4 linked regions of the Homo sapiens genome follow. The protein of the gene in region 3 interacts with the protein of the main gene of each other region in a pairwise test. Each region holds a gene or a part of one and is shown on either strand. Other genes may lie near its edges. The genes, in order: TTPA, THAP4, SCAMP1 and TASOR2.

Region 1 (3,107 bases), on a different chromosome or scaffold from region 3:
TCCTGCACCACCACGCCCAGCTAATTTTTGTATTTTTTTTGTACCAGCCATGTTGCCCAGGCTGGTGTTGAACTCCTGAGCTCAAGTAATCCACCTGCCTTGGCCTCTCAAAGTGTTGGGATTACAGGCATGAGCCACTGCACCCGGCTGTCTCTTAACTTTATACTAACTAACAGTATCCATCGACTGTACCATATAAATTGTTTCTCATAGATTTAATTGTGTGCTCAGATATATGCTTCTACTTAATATGAATTAGTACCAGCTAGTACATTTTTATCGTGTATAGAATAGTCCCAAGGTATTAGTTTGGTAAGAATCACTTGCACATAAGGGAATAGAATTTATAAAATAACTTTATTTAATCTTTAAAAATTTACTTATGAAAGAGGAAAATAACTTTTTATAAATTTTATGCAGTTATAAGAATGCAAATCCAAGAAACAGTAAGGTTATTAGATCCACAGTAATACAACCTAAACATAAGTAAAATTATTAGATTCATAACCAGAGGAATAAAGGATGTGGTATCTATTTATACACTCCATTTTAGAAGTTATTAGAATACCTTGTTTTATGAGGTTGATTTTCCACTGGAAATGCATCTAATGCGGTTTCCTTCTAAAGTGTTTTGGCTATTTCAGATTCACATGCATGGGAACAACTACAAACAAAGCTTGCTTCAGCATTTCCCAGACATTCTTCCTCTGGAATATGGTGGTGAAGAATTCTCCATGGAGGACATTTGTCAGGAATGGACAAATTTTATAATGAAGTCTGAAGATTATCTCAGCAGCATTTCTGAGAGCATTCAATGAGAAGTTATGTCATGTGAATGGCTTCCTAACTAAAAATACATGAGTGATATCCAACCTGGTTAAATGAATGAAAGAAAAGGAGCAAATCTTTTAAACTAATGCTTGCCTGAACTTTAAAAATGTAGAAATCTTCTGACATGAGCAACACAGGTGTTTGGAAAGATTTTTTACTTTTTAAATGCTTTTTTCTCTACTTTTGAAGTAATTAAATGTCAGTACATTTTAAGAGCATAAAAATCGGCGATTTTGTACTTGAAGAGAACATGAAAGTTATTGCTAAAGTAGCTGCTCATGTGCATCTTTGTATGTTTCTAGAAAGTTATATTTTAAACAAGTTCTCTGATTAAATTGGTTTAGAAAAAAATTTAGAAATATTCCGCTTAAAAATACTAGCACAAGTCAGCTAATGATAAAAAAATTAACACTTGTTTTAAGTGGATGTCAGATTAAATTATAATTCATTATAATTAAAATCTGAATAGAGTTTTATGGTTATTCCTGTGGACCAGCAAGACATTTCATCTCAGGGAAATTTTATTTTAGTATATTAACACGATAGAAACTTTTTTTTTTTTTTTCAGACAGAGTCTTGCTCTGTCGCCCAGGCTAGAGTGCAGTAGTGAGATCTCAGCTCACTGCAACCTCTGCTAGGATTACATGTGCACACCACCACTCCTGGCTAAGTTTTGTATTTTATATAGAGATGGGGTTTTGCCACGTTGGCCAAGCTGGTCTCAAACTCCTGAACTCAAGTAATTTGCCTGCTTCGGCCTCCCAGAGTCCTGGGATTACAGTCGTGAGCCATCGCGCCTGGCCGTGATAGAAACTTTCAGCTGAGGAGTCTATATGCCATACTACTCTATGTGGCATCTTTAGGTCTCTGTGAAATCATGTTGATGTAATTGATTAACAAAAATAATTTAGAAAATACGTCAGGCACAGTTGATGGCTTCTCAATATCTGCTTTGCATTTTTAAACAAATCAAGAATGTAATTTTAACTTTTGCTTATGGTCATTCTTATGACTACACGGAAAGGGATGGAATCATACTTACTTGTCTTATACATGGACTGTTTTTAGTTAACAATAACGTAACTACACAAAGGAAAGGAAATGTTTACATTTTAAAAAATTACTGTCAATTACATCTGGTATTTTTCAGATTATGCATAAAATAATATGAGTTTGACTATTGTATCAGAATATTTTAATCAAATCCTGCAATTTATATTAACTTAAAAAAACATCTGGTAAAGACTGGGTGTGGCAGCTCACACCTGTAATCCCAGCACTTTGGGAGGCCGAGGCTGGATGGATGATTGCTTGAGCGCAGGAGTTCTAGACCAGCCTGGGCAATACAGGGAGACCCTGTCTCTATTTCAAAAATAAATAAATAGGCCCCGGTGTGTGATGTTCCCCTTCCTGTGTCCATGTGTTCTCAAAAAAAATTAAAAAATAAAAATAAAAATAAATAAATAAATAACCGGTAAAGATGTACTGTTTCTACTGCAGTTTATAATATTTCATTTATTAAGAAAGATATCATCTCAGCTTTCAAATTCAACATAGCCCTCAATTTATGACATAAGTTTTATACTTAGTATTTTATAATTTCTTAATTTTGTTATAAACTTGAAAATGTAGAATATGGGGTCCAAAATCTGTTGAACATTTGTTCAGCTAGTTAGGTTTCAACATTAATCATATACATTAATAGTATCTTTATGTAAGGATATGTGAAGGGTGTTTTTCTTTATAAGAAAATTAGTTTAATCAGGTGAGCTGATACTTAGGATTATACATATATCTATGATAAAATTGAAAGTAATTGTGGTTGTTCTTTAGAGAACGTGTTTTGATTTTGACTTAGTATTGGGAAGCTAACAACATTATAATTTTTATTAAAAAACTGGACCCTGGGCCGGGCGCGGTGGCTCACGCCTGTAATCCCAGCACTTTGGGAGGCCGAGGCGGGCGGATCACGAGGTCAGGAGATCGAGACCATCCCGGCTAAAACGGTGAAACCCCGTCTCTACTAAAAATACAAAAAAATTAGCCGGGCGTAGTGGCGGGCGCCTGTAGTCCCAGCTACTTGGGAGGCTGAGGCAGGAGAATGGCGTGAACCCGGGAGGCGGAGCTTGCAGTGAGCCGAGATCCCGCCACTGCACTCCAGCCTGGGTGACAGAGCGAGACTCCGTCTCAAAAAAAAAAAAAAAAAAAAAAAAAAAAACTGGACCCTGCCTGTTTTCTAAAAAACACTTTAAAGTATTTTAAAATAAAAGCATACT
Region 2 (7,041 bases), on a different chromosome or scaffold from region 3:
TTTACCACTCTGTGTCTCAGTTGCACATTCAGGCAAGAGGACACCTTTCTGAAATAGATGGACAAGTTCCTTTTACACCTTCCTGCTTGGCCTTTGTCTTTGATCAGTCTGGAATTATTTTCAGAGACCTAGGCGGCCCATGAGTCAAGCAGGGTGGGGTGGAGGGAGACAACTTACGAGAAGTTCAGCATGGGCTGGCCCACGTGGGAGATGTGAACCTCCTCCAGGTACTGGAAGGGCTGCAGTGTGGGGTAGGTCCCGGCTCCAGGTGGGTCCGACAGCCAGGTGCCCAGCATCCAGGACAGTGGCTCCACCACTGGGTTCATCTTGGGGGGCTCTGAGGACAAAAGAATGAGACTATCAGTGGCCTCCCTCCAACCATGCCTTGCTGAGCTTTAAGCAGAATGCACGTTCCATATCGACGCTTGCTTCTGGTGGCCACAGCTAATCCTGGGGGACCTGTCAAGAGCGGGAGAAAATGGTCAAGCAACTGTAAATGTCATAGTGAAAGATCCAGCTTCAGAAGCCTCTGCAGTTCCTGCAGAGAAAAGAGATCCAACAGGGGCCAGGCAGGGCGCAAGCAAAGAGGCCTACACTGCTATCTCCCTAAAAGCAGGCAATTTCTCCACCTGTGGGGTGCAGGTGGTGGGAAGGGATACTGAGGGACCTCAAGGGGCTTTTGCTTTCTTGTACAGTTAAGAATATGAGAACCACATACTAACAGCTTCCTTGTGACCCCAAATAGCTCAGGGGTCCTCCATGTCCTACAGCAAGGCTGAAAGCAGCTCACACGGGAGGCACGGTGCCCTGGCGTGAAGAGTGTGTGAAGGAGACAAAGAGCATCAGGGAGAAAATGAAAGGGGATGCAGGGTCTCGGAGCAGCCAGAGTGTGAGGGCCCAGGGGCAGGCGGGGTTTAAAAGGGAAGTAAGACCCCGCTTCCCTGAGGAGGGGCTGGGGCTTCACAGCAGCCTGTGTAGTGGCCAGGAGACCCCTTTAGAAGGTCTCCTGTGGGGTTCAGTCTCTCATCCCACTAAGTGTGAAGGATGACACCACAGGCCTGGAACTCAGAGGTGGGGGTGCAGTGACAGGACAGCAGGGAGGGGCCGCTGGGTTGGCTGTTCTGCTGGGCGAACTCAAAGGGACCCCTGCTTCCTGCCTCGCTCAGCAAGGACTGGGTGCTCCCGAGCGGCTTTTCAGGATTCACTCACATGACCCTCACCCTGGCTGGATGCACGGGCCCTGCTCTTACTCATTTTCTAAGGGAGACCTGTGCGGGGACCACAGGAAAGCCCCACTGCATGCTACCCATCAGGGGCGCTGGAAGAGAAGGACTGATCCCCAGAGGCAATCCCAAAGACCTGCTTCCCAGGCCTGCTTAACCCTCAAGTCTCAGTGCTTCAATTGACAGAACGGACACTGACACCCAGGAGCAGCAGCAGGGACAGAAGCAGCTCTGTGGCCGCACAAGCCTCATCTACGGAGCCCAAAGATGCCCAAGCACAGAGACCGGCCTGCACATCAGGACTGACCCCCGGCGTCTCCTCCAGGCCCGCGCAAGCAGAAGACGGACTGACGGGGACAGGATCAGGACTGACCCCCAGTGTCTCCTCCAGGCCCGCGCAAGCAGAAGACGGACTGACGGGGACAGGATCGGACTGATGCCCAGTGTCTCCTCCAGGCCCGCGCAAGCAGAAGACGGACTGATGGGGACAGGATTGGACTGACCCCCAGTGTCTCCTCCAGGCCCGCGCAAGCAGAAGACAGCTGACGGGGACAGGATCAGGACTGACCCCCGGCGTCTCCTCCAGGCCCGCAAAAGCAGAAGACAGACTGATGGGGACGGGATCAGGACTGACCCCCAGTGTCTCCTCCAGGCCCGCGCAAGCAGAAGACGGACTGACGGGGACAGGAGTTCTTGGAACCATCGCAGCTTCTGAAATTACACAACCTTTGGATTATAAATTCCAGGAAGTCTGGGAAAAGAAGATCGGGGGAAAGGAAAGCAAAGGCTCTGGGGGTGGAGGAGACCACGTCCAAGAACAGCTTGGAACCAAGGAGGGCCGCACATGTGGCCTGGCCCAGTGGCCGAGCCCTGGGGCCCAGAGTGAGAACCGAGGGTGGAGAGCAGGTAATGAGCACTCTGCCTGCTGGCTGCACAGGGCAAACATAGGTGACCTGAAGCAGGAGAGTGGGAGAGTCCGCTCCTTTTCCAGACTGGCCTGTGGTCTTTCAGTATTTCCTTTTTTGTTTTTCTTAAATGATGATTTAAAAATTTTTTATATCAGTATTTCCTCCTCAGACTCCCGGTGAAAAGTGGGAAGGTGAGGATGGGAATATTTGGACTTCAATAAAACTTTCCTAATTAGACAATAAGAGAATTTTTAAATCAAGATTTTCGTTGCAATCTTTCACGGAGATAAGGAATAGAAGCTTCTGAATCCAATGTGTGGCCTCTGGAACGAGGCTTGTGATCTATCATAGCTGATCAATTCTTTCATCATTCAACGTGCTGGACACTCTTCCAGGGAGAAGCTGACGGAACAGTCATACATCCCTACGGAGCATACATCCTAGCGAGGGCAGACAATACACAAGAAATGAGTGAATGATGCAGAACTGAATGTACATTAGGAGATGAGGCAGAAAGGGAGACAGGGCTGTTGGGGCACTGTGAAAACCTACCCAAAAGGGACAAGGACACCCTCCCTGAGAAGTGTGCACAGACCAGGCAGGGGATCAGGGTCCCTGCAGCTACCCTGGAGAAGAGCAGACCAGGTGGAAGTGCCAGAGACGGAGGTCCTGGGTACGTAGGCCTGGTCTTGCTGGAGAGGAACAGGAGGCCAGTGTGGCCAGGGGAAGGAGATCCTCACCCCTCGGAAGGGCCGTGACCTTGACTCTGAGCAGACAGAAGCCCTCGAGAAGGCTGAGTGGGAGGGACGAGGTCTCTGACTGCAACCACAGGAAGCCAGGGAGGGCAATGGCAAAAACCCTTGTGGCAGAGGAGGGTGGCCTGGGCCAGGTGGCCGTGGTGGAGGCAGTGGAAAGGACCTAGCTTCTGGATCTATCTTGAAGGCAGAGCCACCCGGATGTGCTGATGGTTTGGATGTGAAACACGTAAGAAAAGATGGTAACGGAGGTTTCTGGCCTGAGCAATTGAGAAGACAAGTTACCATTAATGGAGAAAAGGAAGAATGAGAAGAACCTTGGGAGGTGTGAAACAGCAAAACTCAGTCACCTGGGATAGCCCAAGTCCTAAGATGGGCTAAACAAACACCATAATTTCTCAGACAGCCAGCTATAGCCTTGGAGACCTTTCAGTTTGGTAGACTTTATCCAGCTCAGCACTGAAAAGAAAGAGGCTTTGGGCCGGGCGCAATGGCTCACTGAACCTGTAATCCCAGCACTTTGGGATGCCGAGACGGGCAGATCACCTCAGGTCAGGAGTTTGAGACCAGCGTGGCCAACGTGGTGAAACGCTGTCTCTATTAAAAATACAAAAATTAGCCGGGCGTGGTGGCACACGCCTGTAATCCCAGTTACTCGGGAGGCTGAGGTACAAGAATTGCTTGAACCCGGGAGGCGGAGGTTGCAGTGAGCCGAGGTCGTGTCACTGCTCTCCAGCCTGGGCGACAGAGACGTTTTCTCAAAAAAAAAAAAAGAAAGAAAGAGGCTTTGCAAACCTCAGGTTTTTGGGCCGGCTCTCTGGCCTGTGCGGAGCACACCCCACAGCGACTGCCACGGGGCTCTGGCTCTCCTGGGACCGGGTGGACCCACTTCCACTGGTGAGCGCAGCCTGCATGGGAGCTGAACCCTGTGGGAAGCGGCACCCCGGGCGCTGGGGAGCAGCGATCCAGAGTCCAGGTTCTGAGCTGCTGCACCGGGGCCGCGATCTCCACCCCTCACGCCCGAGTCCCCGGCACGGCCACCACCGGCCCCTGGGTCCCGAGGGCCCCGAGGAAGAGGCCAAGGGGCCTGGCGGCGCCCCCCAGGGTCCCAGTGGAACAGGGGCACCAGGGCCGCGGCGCCGGGCATGGCCTTCACACTCCCCACGAGGCAGGACAGCCCCGGGCTAGGGTGAGGGGCACGCGCCGCAAGTCCTGCCTCTGCTCCCGGGCGGCCCCCTCCAGCCTCCGCCGGCCCCGCCCCGGAAGCGCAGCCCCGCCTCAGGCGCCGCATCTCCGCCCTCTCTTGCGCCTGCGGGACCGGGAGGGCCGCGCTCGCCCCCCAGCGCCAGGGTCACGCCACCGCGCCCTGTTTGGGGAGCGGCAGAGGAGTCAGGGCGGAGGCTGGGCGGCGCTGGGCGGTGGGGCGCGCTCACTGGCTGCCACCTCACCTAGCAGGCGTCACAGGGCTCACTCAAGAGCTCCAGCAAGAGCAGAGGCGGGAGCCTCGCCAGCCCCTCCACAGACCACAGCGACCGCGCCCCTCGGCCCGGAGGCCCCGCCCTCCCCACTCCTGCTTCCCCAGCCACGGGGTCTTCTCCCGGCCCCTCATCTACTTGGCAGACGCCTCTCACCGGCAGCCTCTGCCTCCCCCTGGTCTTTCCCTCCCACCACCCACCGTGGAGTCCTCTCCGGGAGGCCCTGTCCTCCATCCAGCGCTCCTCAGAGGGGACCGGAGAGGAGGCGCTCCTTAAATGGGGAAGAAAGACGGACAGAGCCAGGGACAGCGAGAGACGGGACGGGGACAGAGACACAGAGACAGAGAGACAGGGCCAGAGAGACACGGGGATGGGGCCAGAGACGGGGCCAGAGACAGAGACACAGAAAGGGATCTTACTCTTTCTTCCCTTAAAACCAGCTTCTGGGGGTCTCCGAGGGGGACTCTCAGGTAAGTAACAATATTATCACCTTCCCTCCCAAGAATTAAAAAAAACAAAAATAACGAAAAAACCTTTTCCCTGAACTTGATTTTGAGGGAAAATAGGTCACAGATACAACCCACAGCCACCAAAACACACATACGGATGCTGTGAGAAGTGGTGGGTCAGTGCCTCGCTGGAGGACAGGAGGGGCCTCTGGGAGCTGGGGGGGTGGCCCCTGAGAAGCCTCAGGGTCTGGCCTGGCTCAGAGGCCTGGGGCGGAGTGGGGAGCCCTGGACTTGGGAAGCCTGGAGGCTCTTCTGGCCCCCGCTCTGCCACAGGGAGCTCCTGCAAACAGCAGGCCCAGGGCACCCCACGCGTCTGCCCAGGACACCCCAGGTGTTCGCCCAGGTGCTGAAGGCCCAGGCTGGCCTCCATGCAGGGTTACCCACCACCCGCCATAGAGAAGTAATGCGCCACTCCGAAAGAAAGGGGTGCTGCCGGCTGGACGCAGTGGCTCACGCCTATAATCCCAGCACTTTGGGAGGCCAAGGCGGGTGGATCATCTGAGGTCAGGAGTTCGAGACCAGCCTGGCCAACATGGTGAAATCCCATCTCTACTAAAAATATAAAAAACTAGCCGGGCGTGGTGGCGGGTGCCTGTAGTACCAGCTACTAGGGAGGCTGAGGCAGGAGAATGGCATGAACCCCGGAGGCACAGGTTGCAGTGAGCCGAGATTGTGCCACTGCACTCCAGCCTGGGTGACAGGGTGAGACTCTGTCTCCAAAAAAAAAAAAAAAAAAATTAAGAAAGAAAGGCATGCTGCTCCTGAAGACCTTCTGCTTCTCCAGCAATGGACTAATGGACTCTAAGACACTGCCTGAGTTCAGAGATGGACAAAAGGTGACAAGACACCAAGTGTGAACAAGAGCAGCAAAACATACAAACTGCAAAATGTTGATGGGGCAAAGGTGAAACTAAGAGAAAGGGTCTTGCTCAGTCACCCAGGCTGGAGTGCAGTGGCATGAATACGGTTCACTGCGGCCTAGACCACTGGGGCTCAAGTGATTCTCCCGCCTCAGCCTCCCGAGTAGTTGAATGAAGCTGCTCCATGAAGAAAGACCACTAACTAAACATGTAAGAACTCAGGAGAGAAACGGCAAGGAAAGAGGAGAAGGTGAAACATGACCTGGCAGAAGTCGAGAAAGTAAAAGAAAAAAAATCAAGCCACCACCCAAATGAAGTGGAGATTGGAAGCAGCACAGGGAGAAACAAACACCGGGAAACACAGCGGAACACAGAGGACAGAAATGAGTTAAAAAAAAAGACAAAAGATAGAGAAATGGAAACAAAGTTAGAAGGACGGGAACGCCTGGCACACTGCTGATGGGGACGTGAACTGGCACAGCCTAGTGAAGACCATCTGGCATGTGCCTGAGAGGTTAAGTGTGGAGCAGTGGCCCAGGACTGCCACTCCTGGAGACATGCACTCCCAGCAGAAATGACACACCTGTCCCCACAGGACGCTGCCCATGAATGTTTACAGCAGCACCATTCCCAACAGCCCCAAAGTGGAAACAACACAGATGTCCGTCAACCAATGAGTAAACAAACTGCAGTATATCCAGACAATGGAATGTTATTTGGCCATAAAAATGAAGCACTAATATAAGCTGCAATTCAAATGGCCCTTGACAACACACCATATGAAAGCAATCAGGCTCAAAAGAGCACATATTCTGCAATTCCATTTCTGTGAAAGGTGCAGAACACACACATCTACAGAGACAGAACGTGGGTCAGTGTTTCTCCACAGCTGCGTTCTGTGGCAGAAGACGCTAGAGTCACACGTAGAAGGCGCATGAGGAGGGAAGGTGAGTGGCAAGGATGCTACGGCTGGCCACAGCGATCCTTCCAGATTGCAGGCGCGTGAGCTGGCTCACTGACACGTGCAGTGAGTGCGAGCTACAAACTAGATTCCGAAAACTCAGTCCAAAAAGTCTTCAAATAATTCAATAATCTTATAGTATGGGTGGTTGCCTGTTGAAATAATTTTTAGATAATATCGGGTTAAATAAAATATATTATTAAAATCGATTTCACTTGTTTCTTTTTACCTTTTTAATGTAGCTATTAGAAAATATTAAACTACATAAGAGACTCACTCTCTAGACCTTTTCGACAGTGCAGGAATGGAGTTTTCAACCCTTGGCACCCAAGGAGCTTTGTTTCTATGTC
Region 3 (7,041 bases):
CCAATTTTGGTATTGTCAGAGTTTGTTTTTCTATCTCATGGTTTTGAAATGATATATGATTGTTTTTGCACTTCTTGATTACTAGTGCTGTTACACCTCTTTTCACATGTTTATTGACCTCTTTCTATTGCTTGTTCAGATCTTTTGCTAGTTTTTCGATTAGTTTGTATTTTCATGGATTTGTAACAATTCTTTATATATTCTGGGTAGCAATTTTCTGTTATATGCATTACAACTATCTTTTCCTAGTCCATGATTTGACTTTTTACTTTTTGTAAATTTCAGTGTAATTAAATTCGTCAATTTTGTGTGGTGTGTGTTTTCCATTCTTAATTTGACAGATACTTACTGAGCATCTACTGTTTCAGGGACTATTTTGGGTACTTGGGATAGGTCATAAACAAAATACACAGTATTTCTAGAGTTCATATTCTAGAAGCTCAAGAAATATTCATAAAAATATTCACATGTATTTTTCCCTGAAAGTGTTTAAGTTTTGCTTTTTCAGTTTTAGATCATGAATTTACCTCGAATTAATCTTTGTATATGATGCGAAGTAAGAAATGTTTTTTTTTCCTATATGAGTAACCAGTTATCCAGGCACCGTTTATTGATTAACACATTGTTTCTTCACTGTTTTGTAGTGACACCTCTGTTAGATATCAAGTTTCTGCATTTGTGTGGGTTTGTTTCTGTGTCTGTTTTGTTTATTGGTACACTTCTCTGTCCTTGCATCTGTATTACACTCTTAATTACTGTGGTTCTATAATAAGCCTTGATATCATAGGTCTTCCTACTTTGTTTTTCTTCAAAATGGTTTGACCTGTTTTTAGTTCCTGCCTTTTTTTTTTTTTTGAGATAGACTCTCACTCTGTAGCCCAAGTTGGAGTGCAGTGGCATAATCTGGGCTCACTGCAACCTCTGCCTCCCAGGCTCAAGCGATTCTCATGCCTCAGCCTCTCCAGTAGCTGGGACTACAGGTGCACACCACCATGCCTGTCTAATTTTTTGTATTTTAGTAGAGACGAGGTTTCACCATGTTGCCCAGGGTGGTCTCGAACTCCTGAGCTCAGGCGATCTGCCCACCTTGGCCTCCCAAAGTGCTGGGATTACAAGTGTGAGCCTCTGCACCCAGCCGGTTCTTGCCTTTTGTATATGCATTTTAGAATCAGCTGAACTACAGTTATATCTTTGGTTATGCGTGGCTTCCTTTTCAGGGCTGCTGTTAGCTGTGTCAGAGTAAAATCCTGCTATATATTGGTGGTGTCTTCTGGTTTTAATAGTTCTTAAGATCCTTGAACGTCCTTGTGCAGCTTCTTTCTTTTTTATATTTTTCTTATTTATGACCTCCCCCTTCCCTCCCTCTTCTCTTTCTTTCCTTTCTTCTTTTCTTTTCTGTTACTGTTTTTGCTTCTATTGTTCTTTTCATGTTCCCATCCTTGTTTTTTGTTTTTTTCTTATGGTCATTCTAAAGAGTACTTTAAAAATATATTTTTATTAAAGTAGTATATGGTGCATGTGTCGAGGGAAGCAAATAATACAGAGGCATATAAAACAACAGGTGCAAGTCCGTCTGATATCAGGTGGCCGAGACTTCCCAGATATTTTATGGGGGCATGTATAAATCTGTGTCTGTTGAAAAAAAGGTCATATACAGACTGTTCTGTAGCTTGCTTTATTTTTTAATTTAATTTTTATTTTATTATTATTATTATTTTTTGAGATGGAGTCTTGCTCTGTCTCCCAGGCTGGAGTGCAGTGGTGCGATCTTAGCTCACTGCAACCTCCGCCTCCCGGGTTCAAGCGATTCTTCTGCCTCAGCCTCCCAAGTAGCTGGGACTGCAGGCGCCCGCCGCCACACCTGGCTAATTTTTGTATTTTTAGGAGAGATGGGGTTTCACCATATTGGCCAGGCTGGTCTCGAACTCCTGACTTTGTGATCCACTTGCCTCGGCCTCCCAAAGTACTGGGATCACAAGCATAGGACACTGCGCCCGGCCAGCTTGCTTTATTTTATTTAGTATTTTAAAAGACATTCTTCTATCGCTAATTTATTCTCATGGCTGCATTGTATGTATATACAGTAATTTAACCAATCCCCCATTGATGGACTTGTAGATGTCTACTTCCTGATCTTGCAGCTTTCAGACACTACTGATCCTCACTGGCAAAGTGGAAGTTGGGTAATTTATTTTCTCTCTCCTTACGCCTTCCCTTTTACTCTTTTAAATTTAGTGGGGTTCTACCAAGAACTTTCCTGTATACTCTTCAGAGCACTGGCATGTAGCTTTCTCAAGAGGGAAGAGTTGGCAGTAAACCTTGGTGTAGTTCTTTTGTCTGGTTCTATCTGTATTTTACTATTAAACTCAAAAGTTCTTTTTTTTTTTTTTTGAGATGGAGTCTTGCTCTGTTGCCCAGGCTGGAGTGCAGTGGTACAGTCTTGGCTCACTGCAGCCTCCACCTCCCCGGTTCAAGTGATTCTCCTGCCTCAGCCTCCCAAGTAGCTGGGATTACAGGTGCCCGCCACCACACCCGGCTAATTTTTGTATTTTTAGTAGAGACGGGGTTTCACCATATTGGCCAGGCTGGTCTTGAACTCCTGACTTAGGTGATCTACACGCCTTGGCCTCCCAAAGTGCTGGGATTACAGGCATGAGCCACCATGCCTGGCCTCTATTAACATACGGTATCCTGGAGGAGAGTGTTTGTCATATAGTGTTATAAGTAGCAGTCTGATTGTAGAGTTGAAAAATGAATGAGTTGGAGAAAATGGAGATGGAGAATTTAAGCAGCTCTTTGCCACACACTTGACTATGAGAGAGCAGGGAATGAAGAGATGCAGATTTTGGGATTTTTCATTTTATTGGTGTTATACTTTTTGAAAGAAGTTAAAGTTGGATCTCTGTGTTACATAATTTTCCTTCTCTTAATCCTCCTAGCCTCCACCAGGCGGTGTGAAGATGCCTAATGTACCCAATACACAACCAGCAATAATGAAACCAACAGAGGAACATCCAGCTTATACACAGATTGCAAAGGTTAGTTCATGTTAGTTGTATAAATTCATATTGGCCATTATAATATCAATAACATTTGCTTTCAGAGCAAAATAAATCTTTATATGGTTACATTTCTGTTGCTTAATTTTTAACTCACTTTCAAGTCTGGATTTGCTGTCTTGTCACCCTTCAAATACTCATTCCTCTTTTTGTCAGCTTATACCATTTGCTTTATTCCATTATTAGGAATTATTGAATTTATGTATCATCTCAGTGGATAAATTTTTATTGCCTTTGGTCCCACTTTTTAATGCACACTACCATTAAGGTAAAAATGATGGAATAATAGATATTATTGGGAGAGCGTTGCAATGGTAAAATAACAGTGTTAGGAGGTAGAAGATGGCAAAAATCTGAGAAGAAAGGAGATTAATAAGATGCCTGATAGCATGTAAGGGCAAATTGAGTTATAAAGAATTTCTTAATCACATCTTTTGACCTCATTCTCCTATAACATTTAAGATATTAGAAAATATTCTTGCATTGGTGGCCTTATATATCATTTAATCTGATTAATAGGAGCCAATTCAGTTGCCCTTTTTTCTATTGTTCATTTTCCTCAACTGTTCCCATTGCCTCTGTTCTTCACTCATTTAGGCATAGAGGTCATCTTAATTTCATTTTCCAGATTACCTAAAGATTGTGACTACTTTTACTAAGAGAAGTTTTCCTCTCCTAATGGACCCAACATTCCCACTGAGAGTTTCTGGAACCCAAAGACCAAATGGACCAAATATCCTCATAATATTTTCTGTAACTATGATCTTCAGTAAATTCCTGTACTTTGGAAGTGTGTTTGAATTAGGTTTCTCTCATAGTAGAGAAGTAGGAGTTAGCATATAAATGTTAAAGTATTTTATACTTCTGACAGTCTATTCACATATTGATATTTTTTATTTAGGAACATGCATTGGCCCAAGCTGAACTTCTTAAGCGCCAGGAAGAACTAGAAAGAAAAGCCGCAGAATTAGATCGTCGGGAACGAGAAATGCAAAACCTCAGTCAACATGGTAGTATCCAAAGAAATTTGAAATAAAAATAACTTTTAAATACTTTACATTATGTCTATACTAGCTCCTAGGTCATTTGGCCTGTGGATAAAACCCTACCCTGTTTTCCTGTTCTAACAAGGAGATCAGACACAGCAGATTGCCTGTTTGATACTCTGTAGCCTTCTAATCTTGGCTGATTTGCATAGTCTTTTGTTGATAGCTTAGAACAGTGTTAGCCTCATCACACAGAAAATGAATGTGAATATGATAATTTTTGCTTACTCTGAGGCCAGGAGCCTTTGATTCTGCAGTTAGGCCCTCCTTGGTTCTGTGGACTCTTTATGAGTACATTTGCATGTACCCTACATTTGACTTTTACCTGATTTATTCAGGTTAATTTCAGATTATCTGCCCCAGTCCTCGCAAGTATTTTGTCAAATCATGTTAGAAAAATTGGAAGCCTAAGGTATTCATATGATGCCAAAGAAATAAGTGGTGAATTGTTGCAGTGAATTCTATTAAGTTTGTGCCTGCCAAAGCACTTCAAAGGAGTCTCTTAGGGAAAGCTAGCAGTCTCTGAGTAAGAAGAGATAAAAGAGCTAGATAAGTCATTGTTAGGATGTCTGGGATAGTGATGCAATGCAAAGCTAGAACAATAACAATATACAGAACTATTTCTTTTTAACTTAGAATGTGTAAGTCTAGGGCCTCATGAGAACACATTTATCCTGGGTCATTTTCTTGCTTGCAGCATCAGAGGTAGCATCTATAGAAGGAGAAACTAAAAGTTGAACTGGGACCAATGTTTCTGAAGTACCTGTAACTAAAATCCATCCTATTTCTTTAGCACTGGCAAATACAAACTATTTCTATGAGAGTTATGTTAGTAAAGACAGTAACAAAGAGTAGGAAATTAACAATTAGACTGCAGTATGTTAGCACATTTTAGTACTTTTCCCCTCTTAACTCATACTTAAATCATCAATACAATCCTGTGAGGGGTGATAGAGTTTTTATTCTCATTTTACAGATATGGAAACTAAGGCTCGGAGGAGAGAGTAAGTTGCCCAAGGCGACCTTGCCAGTAAGTGGCTAGCCACTTCTGGTTCCAGAGCCTCTCTTCTTTACGAGTATTCACTGCCGCTTCTCAAATAGTATGAGATTGGTATGAGAAATGAACTATATGAAATTTGAATAGTATGATAAATGGAACACAGGAGACTCATTGGGGAGAATCAGAAATAGGTTATTGTTCTTTCTATAAAAATTACCCTGGTCTGGGAAAAGTAGGTAAAATTGAATTTTTAAAAACTGTGGGATATAACATCTAAAATCGGGAAATGGCCTTAGGTGCTGTTTTTACCCGCTATTTTCATGTTTTGACTTCTTTATTTTAATTTTTTATTTCCCCCACCATTTCTCAAGTCTTATTTTTAATCTGGTTTCTTTATGTAGACACATTTTTTTCCCTTTACAGTTTGAATTTGTTTTTCTCTGCATTTTTAAAGGTTCTATAATTCTTCAGCTTCCTTATCATGACTGTTTCATGTTTTCTTTGTTGTAGGGTTTTCGTACATGTATCTTTTGGATATTATTTTTTCCCAGATTTTGAGTATTCTAAATTTGATTCTTTGGTATTGGTTTAATCTTGGACTTAACAGAAAACTTGAAAAAATTAGAAGCTAGTCTTTCTCCACTTGAGATAGGAATTATAACAGAATTATATTTGAAGATTTAAGATGCTGAGGAGAAAATTGAAGTTTAAAAACTGGATGGCCCTTTCATGCCAGCCAGACTCTTTGGACTGTGAAATAAATCTGTTTTAGGGTAGAAGCACTGGATATGTGCTTTCTTTTTGTTTCTTGTTTTTTCTGTACATAAATGGTTCCTGCTAAACATGGTATGATATGACACTGGAAAATTATTTTACTATCTAATGTGCTCTAAGGTGATGATATTCTGAGAAAATTTTTTAAAAATCTAAAGCTTGTCTTTCAGAGTTCTAGGAATACAAAGATATAGTTCTACAGTTTTTCTGAACTTTTGTTAACATAATAGAGTTTTTCTTTATTATGAAACAAAAAATAATATCACATTTGTTATAATATAAATAACCTTTTCTTTTTCTAAAAAAAATTTACAGGTAGAAAAAATAATTGGCCACCTCTTCCTAGCAATTTTCCTGTCGGACCTTGTTTCTATCAGGATTTTTCTGTAGACATTCCTGTAGAATTCCAAAAGACAGTAAAGCTTATGTACTACTTGTGGATGTGTGAGTATACAACAATTTACATCTTTGCTTAGAATTTGTATTTTTGTTGTCAAAATCCGCATTTTTATTTCAAGGATAGTATAGCAAACCAGTCTTCTTTTTCTATAGATAAAGCTTAATAATCATGATTTCAGAGTGAAACATATCCTATTTAGGTACTTCAGAATTGTACTATATGTGACAATGTAAGTCCTTGGCTGAGAAAAACTTGTATGTTGAGAACTGGCATTCTTTTGAGGAAAAGACAACTTCTCTGTCATGTGGGTAAAATTTTATAAGATTCTTTTTCCTTGAAAGATGTTATCTAGACATGATTTGCTTGGAAAAAATAGTGCATACTAATTTTATGCAGAGGAAGGCCATTTAAAAGAATTCTGTTAAATGTAGGCGTTTTAGCTATTTTTAAAAGGGCATAAAATTATTACATAAACTAAGTGTTCTTTTTATAGCTTTGAGTACAGTTTACTTTTTGTTTTCAATTGCGATACTTTTATTATTGAAAGTGCTTAATTAATACAGGACATTTTGTTGAACGGAACATTAGAATATACGTTTGGGGCTCTGATGCTTACATCACTTTGAGTATAATAACTCATGGAATACTGAAACAAAATGTCAAGCCGTTAACAGTTTTACTCTGTGTGCACAGACCTCCCACTTACTCTCTGTTTCATTTTTATTCCAAACAGTAGTCTCAGCCTCATTTTGATACCCTGTC
Region 4 (6,444 bases), on a different chromosome or scaffold from region 3:
GGCATAATTTCTGCTGTCTGCTGTGCTCTTTTCATACAGTGATTCTCTTATAGCAATGCTTTTCACCTCTTTTAACTGATTCTTACCACCACACTTGCTTCTGAGTTCCCTCCCTCTCGGTAGTGCAGCTAAGCTCCTAGTAACACAAATTCAGGATTTTATTATATTTAGTCTCTTCACTTGCCAAGTCAGAGCAGCTCCATATTAAATTGTTTGCTTAAAGTCAACCTTCTCCATTTCTGATGTCAACACCCCTACCATCTTGATGTCACAAAAATCTAAAAAATGGCTACTAAGTCAGCTTATTTAATCATCTACTTGAAAACTCATACTTTACTTCTCTCAGGGCACTTTTATGTATAAAACCTGCCCCGGCTCTGATCACATTGGAAGTGATACCACTTCTAGATCAAAAGCAGCATGTACCTTAACCAGTGTGACTTCTACACAGAACCTGGGATTTTAAATATTTGTAGGCACACGTCTGTAATCCCAACACTTTGGGAGGCCAAGGCAGGAGGATCCCTGGAGATCAGGAGTTCAAGACCAGCCTGGGCAACATAGTGAGATCCCATCTCTACAAAAAATAAAAATACTAGCCAGCTGTGGTAGTGTGTGCCTGTAGTCCCAGCTAAGGAGACTAAGGATGGAGGATTACTTGAGCCCAGGAGGTTGAGGCTATAGTGAGCTGAGATCATGCCACCACACTCCAGCCTGGGTGACAGCCGAAACCCTGTCTCAAAAAAAAAGGATTCTGTATTTAGAAACTTCATTTCTCTACTGCATCGGGGCCTCCTGCTTCTCTTCTGTCACACAATTTGTACACAGAACTCTAGTTGCTGGTGACCACTCCACTGTGTTCGTGTCTACAGAGTTATCTCCCACCATAGTGTGAGCAGGTGGGACCAGGCTGAGGGGCTTGTGAGAGCAGGATGCTGCCCAACCACATAAGTGACAGTGATGGTGTGTACTCAACCATGGGTCTTAGTCTGTTTTTTTCTTGTTTTACAAATAATTATCACTGGGCTTGGCATGAGCCAAAAGTACCTTAAACTTGTCATCTTCTTTTGCTACATTTATTGTTTTGTAGTTCAACTGAAGGAAATTATCAAAATCCTGGAAAAACTAAATGGAAATGGAAGATGGAAGTGGTTGCTTCACTACAGGGAAAATAAAAAGCTAAAAGAAGATGAAAGGTAAGGACTTGCTGTGTGTATGGTTCCTCCTGCCCTGCTGGGGTAGCAGAGAAACGCCTCATGTTCCATGGGCTCTAGCCTAGTGCTGCAGTGGAATGGCCTTCATCAGTAAAGAGCATGAGGGCTGCTGGCTCTGTATTCAATGAAGGAAGCTATGTGCTGTGACCGTAGCCAACAGTATGAGGCATGTACTTATCTAGACTAACAGAAGTAAGGGAGTCAAACTTAGCAGTCATGAAATGTCCATATTCTATTTAAGCCCTACTACTACAAACTTTAAAAAATATATGGAACTTGTACCATTAATGCTTTTTTGGATACTTATAAGTTGCCACCACTTTAAGGAGAATGGAAAAATTAAGACCATAATCTATCCTTAATTCAGTTGTACCCTAAAAGAAGAGGCTTATAAATACGCAAACTTCACTAAGTCTAAAGCTGTAATTTATAAAAGAAAAAAATACATGTTTGATTCCTTGGCTGAAGAGAGCTGGGGCTGAGAGATTCCTCCACATTCTCACAAGCAGGACCAATTGGAAAAGCAGACCTGACAAGCCCTTGTGAAATAAGGATTTCAGGCACTGTTAGGTGCATCCATTTTCATTCAGACTTCATCCCCAGGAGCTAGATAGCAAATCCTCACTTTTATAATGCAGAACTGAAGCAGAGTAGATAACAAACATGACCAAGGTCAAACAAGTAGTAAGTTATGAAGCTGGGTTTCAATCCCAGAAAGACGAAACGACTGTTAGCTGTATGTGACCTTTGAGGAACAGAATCTCAGAAAGCTTTTCTCTTGAAGTGGAGCTAGCAAAGGAGAGAAGGAGCACAGAGGTTTCCTTGGCAGGAAAGGAGGGTGCAAAGGCTTCAGCAGGTCAAGGGTATGACCATTCACAGCGGACTTCAGTAACCAGCACTTGAGGGGAAAAACGTCAACTTCGGTAAGTAGAGAAGCACATTTAAGGTTCTGATGTACCACAGCACACCTATAAAATAAGCATAAATCAATCTAGCACTTCTAGGGCTTTGGGTAGAGAAAGTCATGTCACTTAACGACGGGGATACAGCCTGAGAAACGTCATAAGACGATTTTGTCTATGTGCAGACATAGAGTGTACTTACACAAACTGATATGGTAGAGCCTACTCCTAGATTGCAAACCTGTACATGTGACTGTACTGAATACTGTAGGCAGATTTAATGCAATGGTGGTATCTGTGTGTCTAAACACAAAAAAGGTTCAGTAAATTACAGTAGTATAATTTTATGGGACCACCATTGTATATGTGGTCCGTCATTGACTGAAACATCATTATGTGGTACATGCCCGTACTCACTGCTGTTGGCGCTGCAGTATGCTCTTCATATTATACCACTCTGGCATTATGTAACAGGCGTTATGTATTATTGAGAACTCATTAGAAAACTCTTCATATCCTTTGACCTTTTGTGGAATTTACCCAAAATTCTAGGTGGTTATCAGTCATTGCAAAACCAACCTCAGTTCCATCTCTAGGAGGGAGATATGCAGACTACAGTTAAATATTTTAAAGTTTATACAAAATAATGCCCACCCAAAACTTACACAATAGAAGCATGTAAAAAGTTTCTATTCATAGAAAGAGGGATGGCATAAAAGTTGGTATCATGTAACTATGTTCAGTATGATGTCATAAAAAATTTATACAGGAAAAAGTGAAAGGAAATTAATTCATGATGTTAAGAGTGATTATCACTAGGGTTATGGGAATGGGTGTGATTTGGGTTTTCTCCAACAAGCATGAGAATGTAAGTGATGAAAACTAGAGAGACGGGAGTCGAGCAGAGACAGAAATGCTAAAAATTTAAACATACTGAGTTAACACATTTTCCTAGTAGTGATAGAATTTTCAGGGAAGCAAGAAACCAAGAAAATTCTGGCTGCTACCTAATTTTAATGAAGTTGGCGATTATCTGCCCACAAGGTATGAGAAGTATAGATGTGCATTGCTCTACAAATATACAACGCAATAAGGCCCACTCGAAATTCATGAAAGGCTTGCCAAGCCACATGGCTTGATTGGTCGTAGGTAGATGCATGATGTCCCTCTTAGAATGAGGCCCATGTTTAAAATCCACATTTACAAAAGGAGTAGGTACAATTGTGATGTTTTGAGGTAACCAAAGTGTGTCATGAAAAAGAACGTCAAGAAGAAAGGCAGAGGAACTCATGAGTTTGAATGGTTAAACTGAAGGCAAGAAAAAGTCCTAAGAATAAAACTGAAAAATATTTTAATATGCCTATGTATCTTTCACAGAGTGGATTCAACTGCACATAAGAAGAACATAATGTTGAAGTCATTTCAGAGTGCAAATATCATTGAATTGCTTCATTATCACCAGTGTGACTCTCGATCATCAACAAAAGCAGAAATTCTGAAATGTTTGCTAAACCTGCAAATTCAGCATATTGATGCCAGGTTTGCTGTCCTCCTAACAGGTAATTCACAGGCGCATTTTACTCAGTTAATGCCAAAATTGGTCAGCTCTAGGAATGTCAAAGTTAGATACCTGATGAAGAGTATCAGGTATCTAAATGGCTTGGCATCCCATGGATACCAGAATCACCCAAATCTGCTGAAGCTGAAGCCCTTATATAAAATGTAGTATTTGCAGGTAACTACACAATCCTCCTATGTATGTAAGTCAGTTCTAGATTACTTATAATACTCAATACAGTATAAGTAGTTATACCGTATTATTTTTTAAATCAATACTGGGGCTGGGTGCAGTGGCTCACACCTGTAATCCCAGCACTTTGGGAGGCCGAGGCGGGCGGATCACTTGAGGTCAGGAGTTAGAGACCAGCCTAGCCAACATGGTGAAACCCCATCTCTACTAAAAATACAAAAATTAGTCAGGTGTGGTGGTTCATGCCAGTAGTCCCAGCTACTTGGGAGGCCGAGGCAGGAGAATGGCTTGAACCCCGGAGGCAGAGGTTGCTTTTAAAAAATTTGTGGGGCAGCCAGGGACAGTGGCTCACGCCTGTAATGCCAGCACTTTGGGAGGCTGAAGCAGGTGGATCACTGAGCCCAGGAATTTGAGGCCAGCCTGGGCAACTTAGCGAGACCTCATCTCTACAGAAGTTGGCAGGTGTGGTGATGTGTGCCTATAGTCCTAGCTACTTGGGTTAAGGCAGAAGGATTGCTCGAGGCTGCAGTGAGCCGTCATCACACCACTGCACTGTAACCTGGGTGGCAGAACAAGACCCTATCTATCTTTAAAAAAAAAAAAAAAAAAGTGTTAAGAAAAATTTACGTAAAGAACCATAGTTATCATTTTTCAGGGATTTTTTTTCAGTACTTTAACCACCACCCCCGATGGAGGCATCTATTTCCAAAGCTTCAAATCTTTTCTTAATTTGGAACCCAACACCTTTTCTCCCCCTACCCCTCACACGAGGAAGTTCCACAGATTTTTTAAAATAAAAAACCAGGTCCTGTTATATAAAAGTACATTAATTATATTAACCAAAAGTTGTTTTTTTTTTTTTTTAACAGACAAGCCTACTATCCCCAGAGAAGTCTTTGAAAATAGTGGAATCCTTGTTACAGATGTAAATAACTTTATAGAAAACATAGAAAAAATAGCAGCTCCATTTAGGAGTAGCTATTGGTAAGAACACTTTTTATGTAACTTTCCCATGTGAGTTGGAGTTGTTGATGGCAAATATTGACATTTGTGTCTAAGGGAAACAGTTGGGAAACTGTTGTTTACATACTTCATGCTATAAATTTAAAGTGTTTGTTTAGGGGTGGAATTGCTATTTGGCATAAATAGGAATTCCTAAATTATCACTAAATGAAGTAACCATCTACTAAAATTACCTATTTTATCTAATGTGCATTTTCACTTGCTGTTAACTTGGATCGTCAGTACAGAACATAATGTAACCTTAGAATGCATAGGCGTTTTCCCCATTAGAGCATCCCGCTTATAAAATATTTCTTGTTCGTATTATTTTAAGAAGTTCTTTATCAATTTTGTGTTTCTTCAGGTGACTCAACTACAGCCTGCCTGGATATGGATGATGCCAATAAAAAATTAGTATTTTCCCTTTGGAAAACTTGTGAACATGTGAATACACATGTGAACAGTCTTACATTTGAAAAACCAATGTTCTACAACTTGGAAAGTTTTCATTTTTTATATTTTGCTGAAATATGTCACAGTGGCATTGCAGTTGTCTGTTAGCTTTGGGTTGCAGTGCTAGATATTGTTTTAAATTATTTTCATTTTAAACAAGATGCCTTCTAAGCTATTGAGCTTATTAAAAATAATTTTACATGTTTACTTAGTTGGAGCAAAAATAAGTCTATTTTAACAAATAGCTTTGTTTTTGCATGCTAATGTCAGAAAGGCATACGATGCACATTATGCTCTGTTTTAAAGGTTTTACCACCCTTGTAAAAACTATAATCTTAAATGGTTTTATTTGCTGTTACACAAACAACACTACATAAAACATTTTTTCCTAAATGGTACAAATTTATAAACTATCATTTTTCACTTACGGTATTTGTAAATACTACACTACAAAAATCAGCTTTCTGAGAAAGAAATAATCATTTATTTATGATATTGAAAATTTCTACAGTAAACACTCAAAACCAAGCAAAAAACATTTGTAAGATACACGGTATCTATTTGGAGCAACGGTTTTTGTAACTAATGTGTTTCATTTTTTAAATAAAGACAACTAAAAATAATCTCTTTCTGCAATGATTTTTATAGCAGAAATTGACTTATCTGGAGTGTTCTAGCAATTTTTAGGTCATTTAGCAGAACAGTAAGCTTCCAGAGGAAACCTACACTTCTATCCTTTGGGCCTGGCCTGTTCTGTTTCTGGGTTCTTTCCGCAGTCAAGTACACCGAGTAACAGGTTAAAGAATGGCAGTTTCACCTGGCCTTTACAGGGACACTTACTTCTTTCAGAAGTCATTAAGTCGGCTTTTATTATTCCTAAACAAAAGAGCTTTATTTTCTCATGAGTAGGTTTTAGAGTTTTAATTGTTGACAATTTTTCAGTTACTAATAGAACCCCAGTCATTTCATTTTATTTTTCCAAGGACAAGAGTCTATTAAGGGAACCATTAACTATTCAGTACAGTGAATTACTTTCAGATTACTAAGGAAAAGGAAAGTGAGCAGTTATAAGATGCCAAACACCTATCTATCTGCCTGAAATATGCACCTTTCAGGTTGGACC

Evidence for each region.
Region 1: the proteins of SCAMP1 (region 3) and TTPA interact in binary tests that used the Homo sapiens proteins (3 or more experiments, as listed by UniProt).
Region 2: the proteins of SCAMP1 (region 3) and THAP4 interact in binary tests that used the Homo sapiens proteins (3 or more experiments, as listed by UniProt).
Region 4: the proteins of SCAMP1 (region 3) and TASOR2 interact in binary tests that used the Homo sapiens proteins (3 or more experiments, as listed by UniProt).

What each region holds. Positions count from the first base shown.
Region 1 is NC_000008.11:63,058,963-63,062,069, reverse strand, and holds the end of TTPA (alpha-tocopherol transfer protein), read left to right. Parts: coding exon of another isoform or gene 1-79; exon of another isoform or gene 80-644; coding exon 645-818; 3' UTR 819-2,582; downstream 2,583-3,107.
Region 2 is NC_000002.12:241,606,137-241,613,177, forward strand, and holds part of THAP4 (peroxynitrite isomerase THAP4), read right to left. Parts: intron 338-7,041; coding exon 178-337; intron 1-177. UniProt on the Homo sapiens protein: Heme-binding protein able to scavenge peroxynitrite and to protect free L-tyrosine against peroxynitrite-mediated nitration, by acting as a peroxynitrite isomerase that converts peroxynitrite to nitrate.
Region 3 is NC_000005.10:78,412,581-78,419,621, forward strand, and holds part of SCAMP1 (secretory carrier-associated membrane protein 1), read left to right. Parts: intron 1-2,939; coding exon 2,940-3,038; intron 3,039-3,960; coding exon 3,961-4,069; intron 4,070-6,194; coding exon 6,195-6,323; intron 6,324-7,041. UniProt on the Homo sapiens protein: Functions in post-Golgi recycling pathways. Acts as a recycling carrier to the cell surface.
Region 4 is NC_000010.11:5,757,797-5,764,240, forward strand, and holds the end of TASOR2 (protein TASOR 2), read left to right. Parts: intron 1-1,090; coding exon 1,091-1,196; intron 1,197-3,493; coding exon 3,494-3,675; intron 3,676-4,735; coding exon 4,736-4,850; intron 4,851-5,232; coding exon 5,233-5,236; 3' UTR 5,237-5,944; downstream 5,945-6,444.